3 linked regions of the Homo sapiens genome follow. The protein of the gene in region 1 interacts with the protein of each later gene in a pairwise test. Each region holds a gene or a part of one and is shown on either strand. Other genes may lie near its edges.

What was found. The genes of interacting proteins can lie anywhere in the genome.
Region 2: the proteins of SLC35E4 (region 1) and CNR2 interact in binary tests that used the Homo sapiens proteins (3 or more experiments, as listed by UniProt).
Region 3: the proteins of SLC35E4 (region 1) and GPR101 interact in binary tests that used the Homo sapiens proteins (3 or more experiments, as listed by UniProt).

The regions. Positions count from the first base shown.
Region 1 is NC_000022.11:30,645,744-30,648,393, forward strand, and holds the end of SLC35E4 (solute carrier family 35 member E4), read left to right. Parts: intron 1-854; coding exon 855-1,288; 3' UTR 1,289-2,150; downstream 2,151-2,650. UniProt on the Homo sapiens protein: Putative transporter.
Region 2 is NC_000001.11:23,903,326-23,910,362, forward strand, and holds part of CNR2 (cannabinoid receptor 2), read right to left. Parts: intron 1-7,037. UniProt on the Homo sapiens protein: Heterotrimeric G protein-coupled receptor for endocannabinoid 2-arachidonoylglycerol mediating inhibition of adenylate cyclase. May function in inflammatory response, nociceptive transmission and bone homeostasis.
Region 3 is NC_000023.11:137,030,959-137,038,398, forward strand, and holds the start of GPR101 (probable G-protein coupled receptor 101), read right to left. Parts: upstream 3,038-7,440; 5' UTR 2,844-3,037; intron 809-2,843; 5' UTR 717-808; coding exon 1-716. UniProt on the Homo sapiens protein: Orphan receptor.

The DNA of each region.
Region 1 (2,650 bases):
CTGGGCTCAAGTGATCCTCCTGCCTCAGCCTCTCAAAGTGCTGGGATTACAGGCATAAGCCACTGTACCTGACCGATTTTTTTTTTTTTTTTTTTAAGACAGGGTCTCGCTCTGTTGCCCAGGCTGGAGTGCAGTGGTGCAATTTTGGCTCACTGCAACCTCCACCTCCTGAGCTCAAGATCCTCCTGCCTCAGCCTCCTGAGTAGCTGGGACTAAAGGCACGTGCCACCACTCCCAGCTAATATTTGTATTGTGTAGAGGCAGGGTTTTATCACGTTGCCCGGGCAGGTCTCAAACTCCTGGGCTCAAGCGATCCGCCCTCCCAAAGTGCTGGGATTACAGGCATGAGCCACCACACCCAGCCTTTGTAATGTTTTTTGAGCCACTTAGTCTTCATGCTTATTGATCATTTAGATATCCCAAGCATATCATTGTTTCAGCTCGTGGGAGGCAGTTTGAAGTGGCTGATAACAGACTTATTTATTTTAGTTTAGTTTTTTATATTTACTGAGCATTTCCCATTTAAGGGCTTTATGTATGCCGTCTTTTAAAATGTTTACAACAACCCGTGATTAGGTTTTATTATTACCCAACTCTCCAGGTGAGGAAACTCAGGCTTACGGAGGTTAAGTGCCTCTCATGAGCCCAGGTCACAGCTACTCAGGGGTGGACACAGGTCACAAACCCAGGTGGTCTGACTCCAACTCTTGACTGTCATGTTTCAGATCAGGAGCCACTAGCCCTGCCCGAGGGGTCCGGGTAGGCTTCTTGGAGGATCGGCCATAGGGGTCATACTGGGGTGGCTGGAGGGGGTTGTGTCCTTCTGGGTGCTCATGGCGGTTGTCCTGTTGCAGGTGCCCTGCTGCAGGAGGAGAGGCTGGACGCGGTGACCCTGCTTTACGCCACCTCGCTGCCCAGCTTCTGCCTGCTGGCGGGTGCAGCCCTGGTGCTGGAGGCTGGCGTTGCCCCACCGCCCACTGCTGGCGACTCTCGCCTCTGGGCCTGCATCCTGCTCAGCTGCCTCCTGTCTGTTCTCTATAACCTGGCCAGCTTCTCCCTGCTGGCCCTCACCTCTGCCCTCACCGTCCACGTCCTGGGCAACCTCACCGTGGTGGGCAACCTCATCCTGTCCCGGCTGTTGTTTGGCAGCCGCCTCAGTGCCCTCAGCTACGTGGGCATCGCACTCACTCTTTCAGGAATGTTCCTTTACCACAACTGCGAGTTCGTGGCCTCCTGGGCTGCCCGTCGGGGGCTGTGGCGGAGGGACCAGCCCAGCAAGGGTCTTTGAGACCTGGGGGATCTCAGGAGCCACCTGGGATGGCCCTGGCCTGAATCCAGCCTCCGCTGTGGCCATAGAAGGAATGGAGAACAGGGCTGGGCATGGTGGCTCACGCCTATAATCCCAGCACTTCCAGAGTCCGAGGTGGGTGGATCACCTGAGGCCAGGAGTTCGAGACCAGCCTGGCTAACATGGCAAAACCTCATCTCTACTAAAAATAGAAAAATTAGCTGGGCATGGTGGCGCGTGCCTATAGTCCCAGCTACATGGGAGGCTAAGGTGGGAGGATCACTTGAGCCCTGGAGATCGAGGCTGCAGTAAGCCAAGATCGCATGCTACTGCACTCCAGCCTGGGAGACAGAGCGAGACGCTGTCTCAATTAAAAAAAAAAAAAAGTGGAGAACTGGCAGTGACCTCTACTGGGGGCCATGGCAGGGAGGGGAGCCTTCTGGAAGGGCTGCCTTGGAGATTGGAATGGGGACTCCCAGGGAGACCTGCGTTCCATCCCTGCCTGCCTCACCCCTGCCACAGACTCTGCACACCACTGGATGGTGGGTCCAAGCCTGGCACAGTCCCTGTGCTTGTCAGAGTCATTATTATGATTAATATCAATTACGATGCCAAAAATTGCTGGGCAAACTTTGAAGACCTCAACTTGTTACAATGACGATGATGATGATTCTTGGCGGTTACACAATCCTTCCTCCTGGGGGGGAGGCAGCTAGGAGGCCCAGCAGGGGGGCTTCTATGCTGCTGGGCTCCCCTAGGGAGTTGGGGTAGTCTGTGCCAACTCCAGGCAGCTGCTGTGGCCTCACCCCTGGGCCCCCCAATTTTGGGTCATCCATCCTCAAATACACTATTTTTGCTTGTATGCCTGTGTCATTTGTTGGTTGTACAGAGGGGATATAGGGAGAGTGGTAGGCTTCCCACACAGAAACTAGGACATCCTCCCTTACCCATCGCAGTCTGTCTGGCCCCCCACCCCGAGCCCAGTGCCATTCCCTCAAATCCCTCCACTGGCTGGGCTACCATTGCCCATCTTCTGGACAGTGGCAGTGGCCTCCCCCTTGCTCTGCCTGGCCCCTCTACTCCATCTTACACACAGACCCCTTCACCCAGAGGGATCTCACTAAAACGTGCACATTCTGATGTTCCTCACTGCTCTTGGGACAAAGTCAGAATTTCCTACCCCAGACCCCAACTCACTCAGGACGTGGCACCTGCAGCCTCACCCAGCTTGTCTCCCTTCCCCTGGGCTCTGCCTTCCAGCCTCACCGACTTCTTTCAGTTCCCCGTGATACCAGGCCTGCTCACTGAAACCTTTGTACATGCTGTTCCCTCCGTCCAGTCCCCGCTTCCTACAACAACCTC
Region 2 (7,037 bases), on another chromosome or scaffold:
GCAATTTGGGAGGCTGAGGTGGGAGGAGCGGTTGGGCCCAGGAGTTCAAGACAAGCCTGGGCAACATAGGAAGACCCCGCCTCTACAAATAAAAAAAAATTAGCCAGGGGTAGTGGTTCATGCCTGTGGTCCCAGGCACTTGGGAGGCTGAGGTGGGAGGACCACTTGAGCCCAGGTGGTTGAAGCTACAGCTAGCCGTGATGTGCCACTGCACTCCAGCCTGGGTGACAGAGTGAGACCCCAGGCTTTGTCAAAAAAAAAAAAAAAAGCATTTCTTTTTAACGTGCGTCAGTAAGAAGGGCATGCCTAGGTTAACATATCAAAAGTGCTCCTCATAGTATCTGTGAAACAGCCTTGCAGAACCTAACCTGCCAGGCCATAAATGCAAGGGTGAAAATGGGATTGTGGGGAGCTTCACTTTAACAATAGCTAGTTGTGTAAAATGCAATTAATCCTCACAGTAAGTCAGGAAGGGTGGTCCTATTATCATCATCTCTGTTTTGCAGACAAGGAGACGGAGGCGCAAAGATGCAGTGACTTGTCTGAGGTTGCACAAAAGGGCAGAGCCCGATGTGAACCCAAACCTGTGCCCAGGTCTGCAACTGTCACAGGAGCCTGCCTCCTAGTTGCTCAGCTGGCTCCTGCGGCTTTCTCCCGGGGACTTCTCTCTAATCTTTCTGGGGGGCCCTTTGAAATGTTAAAAAATTGCATTTGGGCTCCCGATTTTCTGCTTTACCAGATTCCAGAGTTCACACTGCCTGAAGACAGGAATCTTAGCTTTGCCCCACTAGGGAGCTCCTTTGTGATCCAGGTGATGTCACTCAGAACTCTGGTTTTTTTGTTCGTTTCATTGTTTTTTTTTTTTTTTTTGGAGTCTCGCTCTGTCACCCAGGCTGGAGTGCAGTGGTGCGATCTCGGCTCACTACAACCTCTGCTTCCCGGGTTCAAGTGATTCTTCCGGCTCAGCCTCCCGAGTAGCTTGGGATTACAGGCGCCTGCCACCATGCCCAGCCAATTTTTTTGTATTTTTATTAGAGACAAGGCTTCACCATGTTGGCCAGGCTGGTCTCGAACTCCTGACCTCAGGTGATCGGCCTGGTGCTGCTTCCAAGTGCTGGGATTACAAGTGTGAGCCACTGCACCTAGCTAATCTTCATTTTTATAACAAGAACTAAAAGGCCTATCTCCCTCTTTCAAAGAAAGTCTACTACAGAAAATTATTTGATGCTCTGTGATATTACAGCATAAATGACTGATAAGCATGTGTGGATCTCTTTCACCCTGAGGGTAGCCTGTTACTGTGAAATCTGTCAGCCATCGGGAAGTATGCATTTGTCTGGGGGTGGGAGGAGCATTGTTAAAATCACACCTGGAAGTGGCCAGTCACCCATTCTGTCCATGAAGTGCTCTCTGTAGGAAAGGAAACTTTCATACAAAGTAAGGCATTATAACCAGGGAACAGAGAGGTCTGTCCCCTGATGATGAGGACTTTTCATGGTGGCTTCTCTCTAAAGCAGGAGTAAGACAGGGTTAACCACGTGGTGAACATTCTGAATCACCTGTGGTTTGCCTCCAGGCCACTCTACCTCTTCCTGGTTTGGCCAGATCCCAAAGGGTAGAGCCCCTACCCCAGCCATGATTCTGGTTTGCTTATAGGGTTGCATCAGTCGGGGGTTGAGGTTGCAATTCAGGCTGGTTCCCAGAACAGGGGAGTTTGTGAAGCGATGTGGAGAGCCATGGAGGCTCAGCTCTTGAAACACTCTGGTGATTATGACAATAGTAGCAACTAATACTGAAATTGCACCTACTGTATACCGTGTGTCAGGCACTATTCTCTGCACTTAACTTTTCTTTTCTTTTCTTTCTTTTTTTTTTTTTGAGATGAGTCTGGCCCTGTTGCCCAGGCTGGAGTGTAGTGCATCTCGGCTCACTGCAACCTCCGCCTCCCGGGTTCAATCGATTCTCTTGCCTCAGCTTCCCAAGTAGCTGGGATTACAGGTACCCGACACCACGCCAGCTAGCTTTTGTATTTTTAGTAGAGATGGGGTTTCACCATGTTGGCCAGGCTTGTCTCAAACTCCTGACCTCAGGTGATCCACCTGCCTTGGCCTCCCAAAGTTCTGGGATTACAGGCATGAGCCACCGCGCCCAGCCATCTTTGCACTTTATATATTATATATATTTATATATTAATTTATATATTCTACACAACAAATCCATGATGGGGGACTAGTATCACTCCTGTTCTGTAGTTGGGGAAACCAGCATCAGCAGAGAGGCTTGACTCATGGGGCTGATAAGATCTGTGAGTGGTGGCAAAGGGGCTGGAGGGGACAAAGGGACAAGCTGGGCAGAGGCTGATGGATGAATTAAACCTGGCATGAGGACTCAGGCCACGGAGAGACGAGGAACAGCCAGGGATAGGCCAGACATCTGGGGAGCTGATCCTCCTGTAAGTTCCTTCTACCTCTCTCTAATAGAATTAATTAAGGTGCATTTGTGCATCTGTTGGCTTTTGGTCCCTGGGACCATAACAAAGAACACATGTTGCAATCTCTGGCCTGGGATTTGGGATCTAGCGGGATCACGGGACACTCTATCAAGCCAATCTCAGGCCTCGGGAGCCAAACTTGCAAGGTGGCCTGGATTTCTAGTTCCTGTTCCTGTTCTGTGTAAAAGAGATTCTCAGTTGGTTCTGAACACAGATTCTCAGTTGGTCCTGAACTTACCCTCGGAACCAACTGAGAATAAGGAGGAAATAGGTAGACAGAGGCAGCCTGAGTCATAGTTGTGATTCTGATTCTGCTCCCACTCTGATGTTTTTTGGAGAACTAGGCTTAAGCTGTCTTCCCCCCTCAGACTCTCTAGCAGTGGGACTCCAGGCCCACACCACTGTACCCACCTCCTGCCCCTTATTAAAGCTGTGTTCTCTCGTGCAAATTACGTCGTCTCCTTGAGCCCCACTGTCCTTGTCTGTAAAATGGGAATAATGAAAATACCTCCACTCAGGACTGTTGTGAGGATTAAACAGTATGTATGGGACATAGAAAACTTAATTTTACAAACCCCAGTGGAAACTACTCGAGCCATTTCATAATTTTCTATGGCCCATGAAAAAGGAAGTGATTTTAAATAAAATGTACTATTTACAATAAGTGTATTGTTTAAAATTTTTCTCTAACTTTTTTTTTTTGTTTTCCTATCTTTCTTTTTTTTCTTTCTTTTTTTTTTTTTAGAGATGGAGTTTTGCCACGTTGCCCACGTTGGTCTTGAACTCCTGAGCTCAAGTGATCCACCTTGAGCTTCAGCACTTCCCAAAGTGCTGGGATTACAGGCGTGAGCCACCGCACCCGGCCAATTCATACTTCTTAAAAGTAATTTTATGTTTGCTATATGATAAGATAAAATAGGTTTCATTTAGCTGGGAGTGGTGGCATGTGCCTGTAGTCTCAGCTACTTGACAGACTCAGATGAGAGGATGACTTGAATCTAGGAGGTCAAGGCTGCAGTGAGCCATGATTGCACCACTGCACTCCAGCCTGGGTGACAAAGTGAGACTCTGTGTCAAAAAAAAAAAAAAGAAAAAATATGTCTCAGGCCCCTATTTGCATGCCTCTCTGTATATGCCTTGCAGGTGTAGATCTCTTTTATACCCAGTACAGGAAAAGACAGAATACATCTTTCTCTCTTCTTACCAACCTTTGAAATGTTGTGAAGTAGTAGGATTTCTCTAATATGCCATATAAGAAAGTTGATCAGATAAATGTAATTTATGAATCTTGAAGCAGGCCGGGCATGGTGGCACACTCCTGTAATCCCAGCACTTTAGGAGAGCAAGGTGGGCGGATCACCTGAGGTCAGGAATTCGGGACCAGCCTGGCCAACATGGTGAAACCCTATCTCTACTAAAAATACAAAAAAATTAGCCGGGCGTGTGGCATGCACCTGTAATCCCAGCTACATGGGAGGCTGAGGCAGGATAATCGCTTGAACCTGGGAGGTGGAGGTTGGGACGTGGAGGTTGCAGTGAGCCGAGATCGCGCCACTATGCTCCAGCCTGGTGACAGAGGGAGACCTTGTCTCAAAAAAAAAAAAAAAAAACAAGAGAAAAAAGAAGAATCTTGAAGCAAATCTGCAGAGGAGTTAACACCATCATTTCCTTGTATTTTCTTTTCTTTTTTTTGAGGTGGAGTCTTGCTTTGTTGCCCGGGCTGAAGTGCAGTGGCGTGATCTCGGCTCACTGCAACCTCTGCCGCCCGGGTTCAAGCAGTTCTCCAGCCTCAGACTCCCAAGTAGCTGGGATTACAGGCGTGTGCCACCACACCTGGCTAATTTTTGTATTTTTTAAGTAGAGATGAGGTTTCACCATGTTGGCCAGGCTGGTCTCAAACTCCTGGCCTCAAGTGATCCACCCACCTCAGCCTCCCAAAGTTCTGAGATTACAGGCGTGAGCTACCGTACCCAGCTTCCTTGTATTTTTGATATCAGTTTCTTATGCTGTCTTTAATCATTGGCTCAGTAAGGGTATAAATTAAATGATATCAGATTAAGAGCAAAAACGATGTAAAGCCATATATCAGCCAAAGCTGTAGCTGAATGATTAATTGCCTGGTTGTGAGTCATGAGCTAGTTTGTTCTATCACCACTAACTACTGCTTTTTTTTTTTTTTTTTTTTTTTGAGATGGAGTCTCCCTCTGTTACCAGGCTGCAGTGGCGTGATCTTGGCTCACTGCAACCTCCGGCTCTCTGGTTCAAGCAATTCTCCTGCCTCAGCCTCCTGAGTAGCTGGGATTACAGGCACATGCCACTATGCCCGGCTAATTTTTGTATTTTTAGTAGAGACGGGGTTTCACCATGTTGGCCAGCATGGTCTCGATATCCTGACCTCATGATCTGCCCACCTGGGCCTCCCAAAGTGCTGGGATTACAGGCATGAGCCACCGTGCCTGGCCAACTATCGCTTTTTAAATATTTATTTTATTTTTGAGATAGGGATCTTGCTCTGTCACCCAGGCTAGAGTGCAGTAGCACAATCTCGGCTCACTGCAGCCTTGAATTCCTGGGCTCAAGCGATGCCTGGCTATACCTGCCAGATTTGATTCTTCCACTTATCCTAGGAAGATCTCACATTGAGAAAAAATCTTTTAACTATTACAATAATTATTCACTAATTTTTAAAAAAATGGAAACAGGCATCAAGACCTTCTAATGATGTGAACCTTCTGGAACATCTCCCTCCCTAGTGGGAAAAGCTGGTAGAAAGTAGTGGGAAGACAGACTTGGGTTTGACTCCTGTCTCTGCCTGTTGTGTCTCAGCCTTAGTGGCTTCATCTGTCAAATGGGCCCATTGGAAGGGAGGGAGGGCTACAGAAGGTCAGTGAAGCACCCTCTGGCTCCTTCCTTGCTCTCAGTGGGCTCTATTCCCCAGCTTCCAGCTCCATCAGATTTTCCAGGACCCAAACAGACCCAGGGAGAGACACAGAGGACGAACTCAATGAATTTGGGCTGAGGCAACACTGTGAACGCAGCTGTGGCTCTCAAAGAGGAACTTAGGGGTTGCCTCAACCTCTAGGGAGGCAAGGGAGCCTCTGAGAGACAGGTGGGGTGGTGGGGGTGAGGGAGTGGGAAAAGCTGCCTTTGACTCACTGTATGAGCAGGAGATCAGAGACCTCCTCTCTGGGCAGTGGAAGCAGGTGGGGGAGGGGAGGAGAAGCCGTGAAGCTCACCGGACACCGAACCACGAAGTCCCCTCTGCTCATGGGCTCACCCACATCCTCCCCGACTGGATGGGGCCCCAGCAGCCTTCACTCCCTCGCCTGCTGGGGAATCCTTCCCTCCCTGCTTGGCCCTAACTCCACTATGCAGTTCCTCCCCCATTAATCTGGCCTTGTCTGTCATTTTCTCTCCTTGGCATTTGAGGTCTTTGCTGCATGGCGTGAGGACTGAGTACATCCTTTCTCTCCCCAGGAGATGGAGGGAAAAGAGAACAGTTTTACACTGTTCTGGGTTCTGCTGGAAGAAGGCTGAGACCTGATCTTACTCTTCTGGTGGTCCCTGCAGCATAGCTGGGGACCGAGAGCCTTGGCTGTGCGTGGGTTCCCACTCTGCCCTCTCCCGAGACTTCAGTGTCCTCATTTATAGCTTGGGGAGAGAAAGAGAATTGCCTTTACAGGACCGAGGTGAGGATTACATAAGATAATGCCTAAGCACAGTCAGGGAAGGTCTGTCAGAGATCATCATGGAAACAGGAAGTCACCTGGGCCAAGGGCTAGAGCCTCAGGGTCTTGGCACAGAGTAGACACCTCACAAGACTGGATTGGACTGCTCAGTTTGGGGTGGGAGGAGAGAAGCCGGCCATATTCATATGATATCCCTCCAATTTCCTCCCCAGCGCAGGTTCTCGGGTTGTCCATGTGATGGCATCTGAAACGCAGCCTGGCGAGCGACACAGTAAAGACAACCCTGATCATGAGTCCCCGAGCCTGCCCTGCATCTCCATACCTAGAGGCATTTCCACTCCCGTTCTCCTATTTTGATTCCCACCACAATATGGCTTGGTTCTGGATCCAGATTGACCTGGACTTGAGTCTCAGCTTTGCCATTACCACCAGTTATGGGACTGTGGACAAGTCTCTCTCCTTCTTTTTTTTTTTTTTGAAACAGTATCTTGCTCAGTTACCCAGGCAATAATAGCTCACTGCAGCCTCAATCTCCCAGGCTTAAACAATCCTTCCACCTCAGCCCCCTGAGTAGCTGGGACCACAGGCATGTGCCACCATGCCTGGCTAATTTTTAATTTTTTTTTTTTTTTTTTTGTAGAGATAGGGTCTCACTATGTTTCCTAGACTGGTCTTGAAGTGCTGAGCTCAAGCTATCCTCCTGCCTGGGCCTCCCAAAGTGCCAAGCTTACAGGTATGAGCCACCATGCCCGGCCCCTTGGATAAGTCTTAAGCTTGTGTGAGCTTCAGTTTCTCACCTTGCAAATGTGGTTAGTGATAGCAGCCCCCTCCTAGGCTGTGGTGAGGACTTAATGAGG
Region 3 (7,440 bases), on another chromosome or scaffold:
TTGACTCGCACTTCCAAGCTGTGTCTCTTGACATTGTACAGCAGAGCATGCTGCCTCCGGGCTGCACAGAACACCACGGAGTAGCAGGCAATCATGACAATCAGTGGAATGACGATGAAGGACACCACGCTGAGAATAGTGTAGCTGGGGCTGGCCCCCCAGATCATGGAGCAGAGAGCATTGCGCTCATCAAAGGCAGCCTGGCCCCAGCCGTAGAGTGGAGGAGTGCTCTGCAGGATGGCCACAATCCAGGTGCCATAGAGGAGCAGGTAACCGCGGCGCTGGGTCATCTTGGACGGGTAGGAGAGAGGGTGGATGATGGACAAGTAGCGATCCACTGACACCACGACAATGGTGTTGACGCTGGCGAAGGCGAACAGGTGGGTGAGGCTAACCAGGGCCGTGCAGAAGTGGCTGTTGAGGGGCCAGAAGAGAGGCACAGAGGTGGCCACCACCCAGGGGGCCACGAGCGAAATCTGCAGCAGGTCGGTGACGAGGAGGTTAAAGATAAAACGGTTGGTCACCTGCAGCAGCTGCGGCTTGCGCTGCAACACTAGCGCCAGCACTATGTTGCCGACGAAAGAGGCGGCGAGGAAGATAACCAGCACGGTTGAGCGGATGATGCCGTGGGCCAGGCTGATGGGCATTTTGGAGAGGGGCATGCACGTGTGGCTGCTGTTACTCTCGCGCGTGCTGTTGGTGCAGGTGGACGTCATGGCAACAGCCAGAGGGCGTGAGACAGGTTGCAGGCTCAGTGCCGGCACCGGTGGGTGGCAAAGGGGTGCACAGACCGCACTCAGTGCCTATGCTGGTGACAAAAGAAACACGCAGGCAGAGTTAGTCACCCGTCAAGGGGAGAAGCCTCCGCGCCCAGCAAGGACGCTGCAGGACCCCCTACCCCGGGTTTCCGCACGGCTCCATCCCCAGTGCGGGCAGCTTCTATGGCTCCTTTCCGGACTCTCCAGATCTGTCTGCCTGTCTCTCTCCAGGGCTCTGATTTCCTCTCATCTGTTTCTCCTGCTGGCGCGTGCGTGCGTGCGCTTTCTCTGCTTGTCTCTCACACTGTCTCTGGCTCCGGGGAGTTTTGGTCGCTAGCGCTAGCGCATGCGCGTGCGCTCTCTGTTTCTGTCTGTTTACGACCGTCAGTTTCTGTCTCTTCTCCAGTGTCTCTCGCTAGCGCACTTTTTTTCTTTATCTCTCGGGTTGTGTGTCTGTATGTGTCTCACCGTTTCCTGATTCTTTCTCATCCTTGTCTCTCACTTATGTCTGTCTCTGTTTCTCCGTCTCTCGATAGCACGTGCACGCTGTCTCTTTCCTGTTACTCTCATTTATCTCTTCCACTCTGTTTGTCACTCAGTCTCTCTGTGTGTGTCTCTTTCGCTAGCGCACTTTCTCTGCAGGGCTTGCGCTCTCGCTCCCTATCTTTCTCACAGTCTTGCCCGTCTCTCCCTCAGTCTCTTTCTGATCCATTCTGTCTCTCTGTGTCTCTGCCTGTCACTGTGTCGCTCGCTAGTTCATGTGTGTCTCCGTCTTTCCCTAGTGCTCTCTTGTCTCTCCATTTCTCTCTCAGTCTATTTCCCCAGCAGTTCATCTTTGTGGGTCCCTAGCGCACCTGTTCAATGTCGTTCGCTGTGTCTCTGCCCGTCTCCGTGTCTCTCCAACTCTCTTGTTTCTGCGTCTCCCTCGGGTTCTCTGGGTGTCTCCTTCTGTCTCTCACTGGCACGTGTGCGCTTGCTCTGTCTTTCTCGGACCCTCTTGTCTCTGTGTCTCTCCGTGTGGTTTCTGTCTCTCCCTGCCTAAGTTCTCTCTGCATTACTCTGCCTCTCTCTCCATTGATCTCTAACACTCTACTGCTTGTCTCACCTGTCTCTCAAGCTATCTCTTTAGTGTGTGCACTCTCTCGTTGGTTTCTCTGTCCTTCACTTTCCTGTCACCCCAGGACTCTGGCTAAACACTTGCTTTGTATCTTTGAGTGTGTGCGCATCTCTATTTCTCTACATCTTTTTCCCATGGCCCCTCACCTTGGTTTTTCTCTGGCTGGATCTCTGTCTCTTTGGATCTCTGTCTCCCTGTGGACTTTATTTTGCCGTGGAAACCACCTGCCGCCCCGGCCACCGCGGGCTTTGGTTAAAAAACCCTTAGTTTATCAGCAGTGCAATGGAGACTGGAAAATGCAGAGAGGATGCCTATTGAGCTCCCCTACCCTCACCCTCCACAGCCCCATCCCCATTCCCAATTTGGCATCCTCTTTGCTTTCTCCGGATCTGCTTGGTGTCGGTGACAGCCGAGGGGAGTGGGAAAGGAGCTGGGGAGAAAGGCAAAAGAGGCAGGGGTGCAGGGTGGTGGAGAGAGTCAGAAAGGCAGGGCGAGAGAGACTGAGAGGCAGAGAGACAAAAAGGAAATGAGAGACAGCGAAAGAATGAGATACATACAGAGAGACAGAGAGAATGTGAGCAACAGAGAGGGAGAAAGAAAGAAAAAAGAAGAAATGGGAGCGTGAGAGTGAGAGAGAATGAGAGAGCAAGACAGACTGGGAGAGACGCAGACAGAAAAAGCAAAAAATAATAAGAAAAGAGAACAAGCAGAGGAAGAGGGAAAGGATGAGGAAAAAACGAGAGAATGGAGAGGAAGGGGGAAAAGAACGCACGAGAAAAAGTGAGAGAGAAAACGCGAGGGCGGGAGGATGGCTAGGGAAAGGCGAGAAGGGGCCGCACCGCGGGCCACCGCGCCTGGTAGCTCAGCAGCCGTCGGGACGCTTCAGAGGGGGCGTCGTGGGCTCCCAGGCTCGGGGCCCTGCCGGGTGCTGGGGGCCACGGAGCCCGGAGTAGGGCCGGGCTGCTTACCTGTTGCTGCTGCAGACGTGGCGTCGCGGGCGCCGCGTGCAGGTCCTTCGGGGCTCCTCGCGCTCGTCCCGGCCGCCTCTCGGGGCTCGGGCGGCTGCGAGCTGGCACGGGGCAGCGGGCGCTGCGGGCGCGGCAGGAGCGGGGCACAGCGTCTGTGCCCGCACGTCCGGCCAGCGCGCCGCGCTGCAAGCTCTGAGAGGCAGCGGGGGCGCGCGGCGTCTTAAGGCAGCGCGGTGCCCTCACCTTGCGGTGCCGCCCTCCCCTCGGCCCCCGCCTGCGCCCGTGACGCACGAGGCCGCCGCAGCCCAGGGAGCGGGGCTGGCAGGTGGGGGGCCGTGCACCAGACCCCACTCAGATTTTCTCACTCCGGGTTCCCACCCCTGGGGCCCCGAGTCCACCGAGAGCTCACAGACTGGGGATTGTCACCGGGGCTGATTTTCGTGCAAACCCCGTGCCTTCCTAGCCCCCTGATTTCGGGCCAGCTCCCAGGCACAGACCCTGCACTATCCTTCCGATTCTTCCAAATAGGAGGGCCCGGGACTCCCCTCGACTTCTGAAAACCCTCCAAAGTATGAATAGCCCCTGAGCCCGAGAAAGGAATCGTGACTTTAATGTCAACGATTTTCCACGAATTTCTCTAGCTCCCAGGAAGAGCTAAGCGGCAGTGCTTTCCCTGTGGGATTTGGAAGCATTTCATTTAAGACAAGCCACATAATTACCCACTATATTCTTTGATTGAAGTATGTCTGTCTGTAAGTCAGTCAGCATCTCTCCCTCTCTCCCTCTTTCTCCCCCTCTCTCTGCCAGGTACTGTGTTAAACTGTTTACACAGAGAATACCGCTGAATCTTTACCCCAGCCTTGTGAGATAAGTACCGCTATTATCTTCATTTTATAGAGACAGAAGCAGAAGCCAAGAAAGATTACCCTACTTGCCTAAGTTCAAGTAAATATTGCACACGTTCTATTAGCCAAGACATTCTGGTCTCTCCTAAACACATACTGGGTATTTGTTGTATATCAGGACTGAGGAGGCCCCCTCTTCCCTGCCCCCAGAAGGTAGGGAAGGTGACCCAGACCAGGGATCATTTGCATTAGATTTCCAAGGGATTAGGAGGTGTTTTCTAGGCAGGGCACAAGGGGAAATGTGTTCTGTAAAAAGAAGATGCATGGGGTAAAACTAGGGCTGCAAGAGAGACTTGAGTTCCAAAGGCTGGGAAAACAGGCTGCAGCATGGTGAGTGCCAGGAGGTTAGCTGGTTAAACTGGGTAGAGACAAATCCTGAGGGGTCTTGAATGCCAGTCTGCAGACTTCGGACTTTACCCTGAGATCCCTGGAGGTCGTCGGAGAGTCGTTTTATTATGAAAGACTTCAAGCATACACAAACGTAATGAGAATAATAAAATAATCCTCCATGTTCCTATTACCCAGCCTTCACAAGGGTAAATAATTTGCCATTCTTGTTCATTGGTGGGTTTTAGGTAGGGCGATATTCTAAAATCAGGGCTGGTGTTGGATGGAGAAAGCTGAAGGGAGGCTGTGGCAGGAGACAAAGAGGGTCTTGACAGGTCCAACAGAGCGGGGCAAGCAGAGACCTACAGAGAGGCAAATTGACAGGGAATAAGGGCAAGGAGGTGTTGGGGAGGGTCTAGAATGAGCACAGGGTTTGGAGTTGGTTGATGGGCTGGATGGAGATACCTCCTCCCCTTCTCGTCACCTGCCTCTGAGACAGGGAGATGAGACAGGTGTATAATCGGGCCTCAAGAATGCTCTTTGGATCTGGAGTCCTGCATTTGCTCTTAGATCATTTGTCCTTTTTCTGCTATGCCTGATTTTATCTCCCCAAGGTTGAATGGTAAAAACCTGGTCATTTTTCCTAGAGACAGTTTCCGTGATAATCACTCACAGTTATTATTAATTCCTAGCTTCGTGCTGGCCATGGTACAGAATCCTGGGTGGCATGCACTGTCAAGCGGTAGTTTGTTCAGACTCAATGATTTTACAATCACTTGGGAGGCAGTGAAGCTGCTAGAAGTGGCCAGAGACAAAGGCCAGTCTTTCTTGACCTTTCCTATTTTTATTGTGGTTGTGACCATGCCCGAGACTGCTAGGTTCCAGCAGGGGACCCTCTAGACACATGTTAAAGATTGGTGCCTCAGAGGGATGGGCTCATGGAGTCTGCAGCTGCACTTTTGGGCACGAAGGGGGATAATAGGGAGTGGAAGGGGTTGGGTGGGATGAGGCCTCTGCAACTGAGACAAGCCTGCCAGCCGGAGATAGGAAAAAAGCCAGAGAAGTGCTAGGAAATAAATACCAGCTATTTTTCTGTATAGGGAGATGTTTGAGGGTGGTTAATCCTCCGGTGTCTTCTCTTTCCCTCCAGATGTGAGCAGAGTAGGTATTCTTGGATTTCAAAGACATCCAAATATCAGTTCCCCAACTGGAAGTATGTGGTGGAGCTTTGGGGAATGTGGATTTGGCTTCCAGCCCTGCAGGCTCTGATTCTGATAGCCTTGAAGGAGCCCTTCAACTGACAAGCCTCATTACATTCTGGGGAGAGTCTTTGGGATGAAACAGGGAGACTTTGGGATGATGGCTTAAGAAGTCACCTAGTCCTTTTCCCTACCTTCATAATTCAGTAGCAGCAGAGGCACGATCAAGCTGATGATATTAATGGACCAGGACTAGAGGGCAAGAAGCTACCAACAAGAAAGGGCCCAAGGTCCCATTGACAATCACACGTTGCAACACTGGTCAGTAGTGTGCCGGCCTCAGGCTTGTTCACCTTGTCAGACTAATTGCCCCAATTGCTGTACCAATAGCTAGATGAGGGAAGTTGGGAAACCCAAGACTCAGCCAAGTATTAGTTCTAGTCATTCATTCTAGTAATAAACGGTGCAAGAGTCCTTGAGTGCCTACTTTATGCTTGCTGTCTTGTATTAAATCCTTGAGGAAGCTCTGCAAGTTAGGAAACAATACCGTATTTTCTGAAAGCATGACACAGTACATACCACTAGGAAATGGAAAAATGCTGAACATTTAACCATCATACCATGGCTAACAAGATACATCTTGATTTCAAAGATGCTAGAATGTGAAAAAAAATGTGCTTTAGAATCAATGTAAGACAGTATCATCCCTGTCTTTACAGAGGGGTTAAGTAACTTATCCAAGGTCACACAGCAAATAAGTTTTGGAGCTGAGAGTTAAAGCCTACTCTAACTCCAAAGCAGGGGCATTTCCTAGGCTACATCAAGGAAGAGTGCAGAGACAAGACAGAAGGGCTCCCAGACCCAGCTCAGATAAAATTTTTGAATCTAGGTGAAAGGGGACTAGGAGTTGCTAGAATTGTGAAAAGACAAGTGCATTTGCAGTGGTAATGGTTTCTTTTTGTAGGACAGACACATGGTTCCCATAGGTGGTAAAAAGACTAAATCAGTCAATCTAAGTTCTAAGTCACACTCCTTTTTGCTTAGCGAGTTCATAATAAGTCGATGGGGAAAAATATATGGTTTTGTTCTGGAGTGCCTACCCATGGGGGTGTTTTACATTTTTCAGTGTTATGTGTTACTCTGGAATTCACTTCAGGCCAACTCCTAGAAGCTGTGTTTGCAAAACTGAAACAAAATCAAGTACCACCTGGGTGTGAGCTAATATTGCACATTCTGTGGGTTTGGGCAGTACAGAAGTTCTGGATTTCAAAGCTATGTCTATCCAAATAAACTAATTTGGAAGAGAAAATCAGCAGAAAATAACTTGATGGATTAAAACTAGAGAGCAGAAGACTTGAATTCTAGCCCTAATTCTGTGGCTAACTTGCATGTAACTTTGGGAAGATCCCCTTCCTCTCTCTGATCTCACTTCTGTAATCCACCAAATGAATGTGTGTGTGTGTGGTGGGGCTAGGGGTTGGATGTTAGGTAGTCTCTAAGGATCCTGTCAGTCTATGACCTTTGATGCCATCTACTTTCTATCTGAGTGTTATTTTTAAAAACCCAAAACTAATCTGACCCAAATATTAAAAAAATTGAAAGCTGGACTCTGCTTCTGGCCATGAAAGAATAAGAGACAGGATTTACCCTTTTATCTTAAACAACTAAAAAAGTGGACAACATACATAAAATAATAGTTGTTAGACATTGGAAAATAGACAGTACAGCACAGTGATCTTCAAGAAAAGAGAAACAAATGAGGTGAGCCCTACAATTGCCTCCGTTTACTACCTAGAGAGAATTTCCAGTCCTCTGTGCAGGAAGAAAGAATCCAGGCTGAGCCTGGAAGTCCGCCTAAATTTAGGAGACAAAGTTCAGAATTCAAGGAGGTGAGGGTGGGCAGAATTTGCAGAGCAAGGTGCCAGAGGGGCACTGCACAGAAAGAGTACTCCGGAACTCTGTAAAAGATTTCCCTCAAGGCTGAATACTGATCAGCACATGCATGTAAAGTATGCAAGGTTGGGATAGAACCACTCAAAAGGAGTAGGAGGAGTGATTTGTAGAGCTCACACAAGACTGGGAATAGCTCAGTTTCCCAGTAGTCAGAGAGAAGAGACTTCATAAGATACAGTGCATCAGACTAAGTGCTCAGAGGAGGATTGCCTC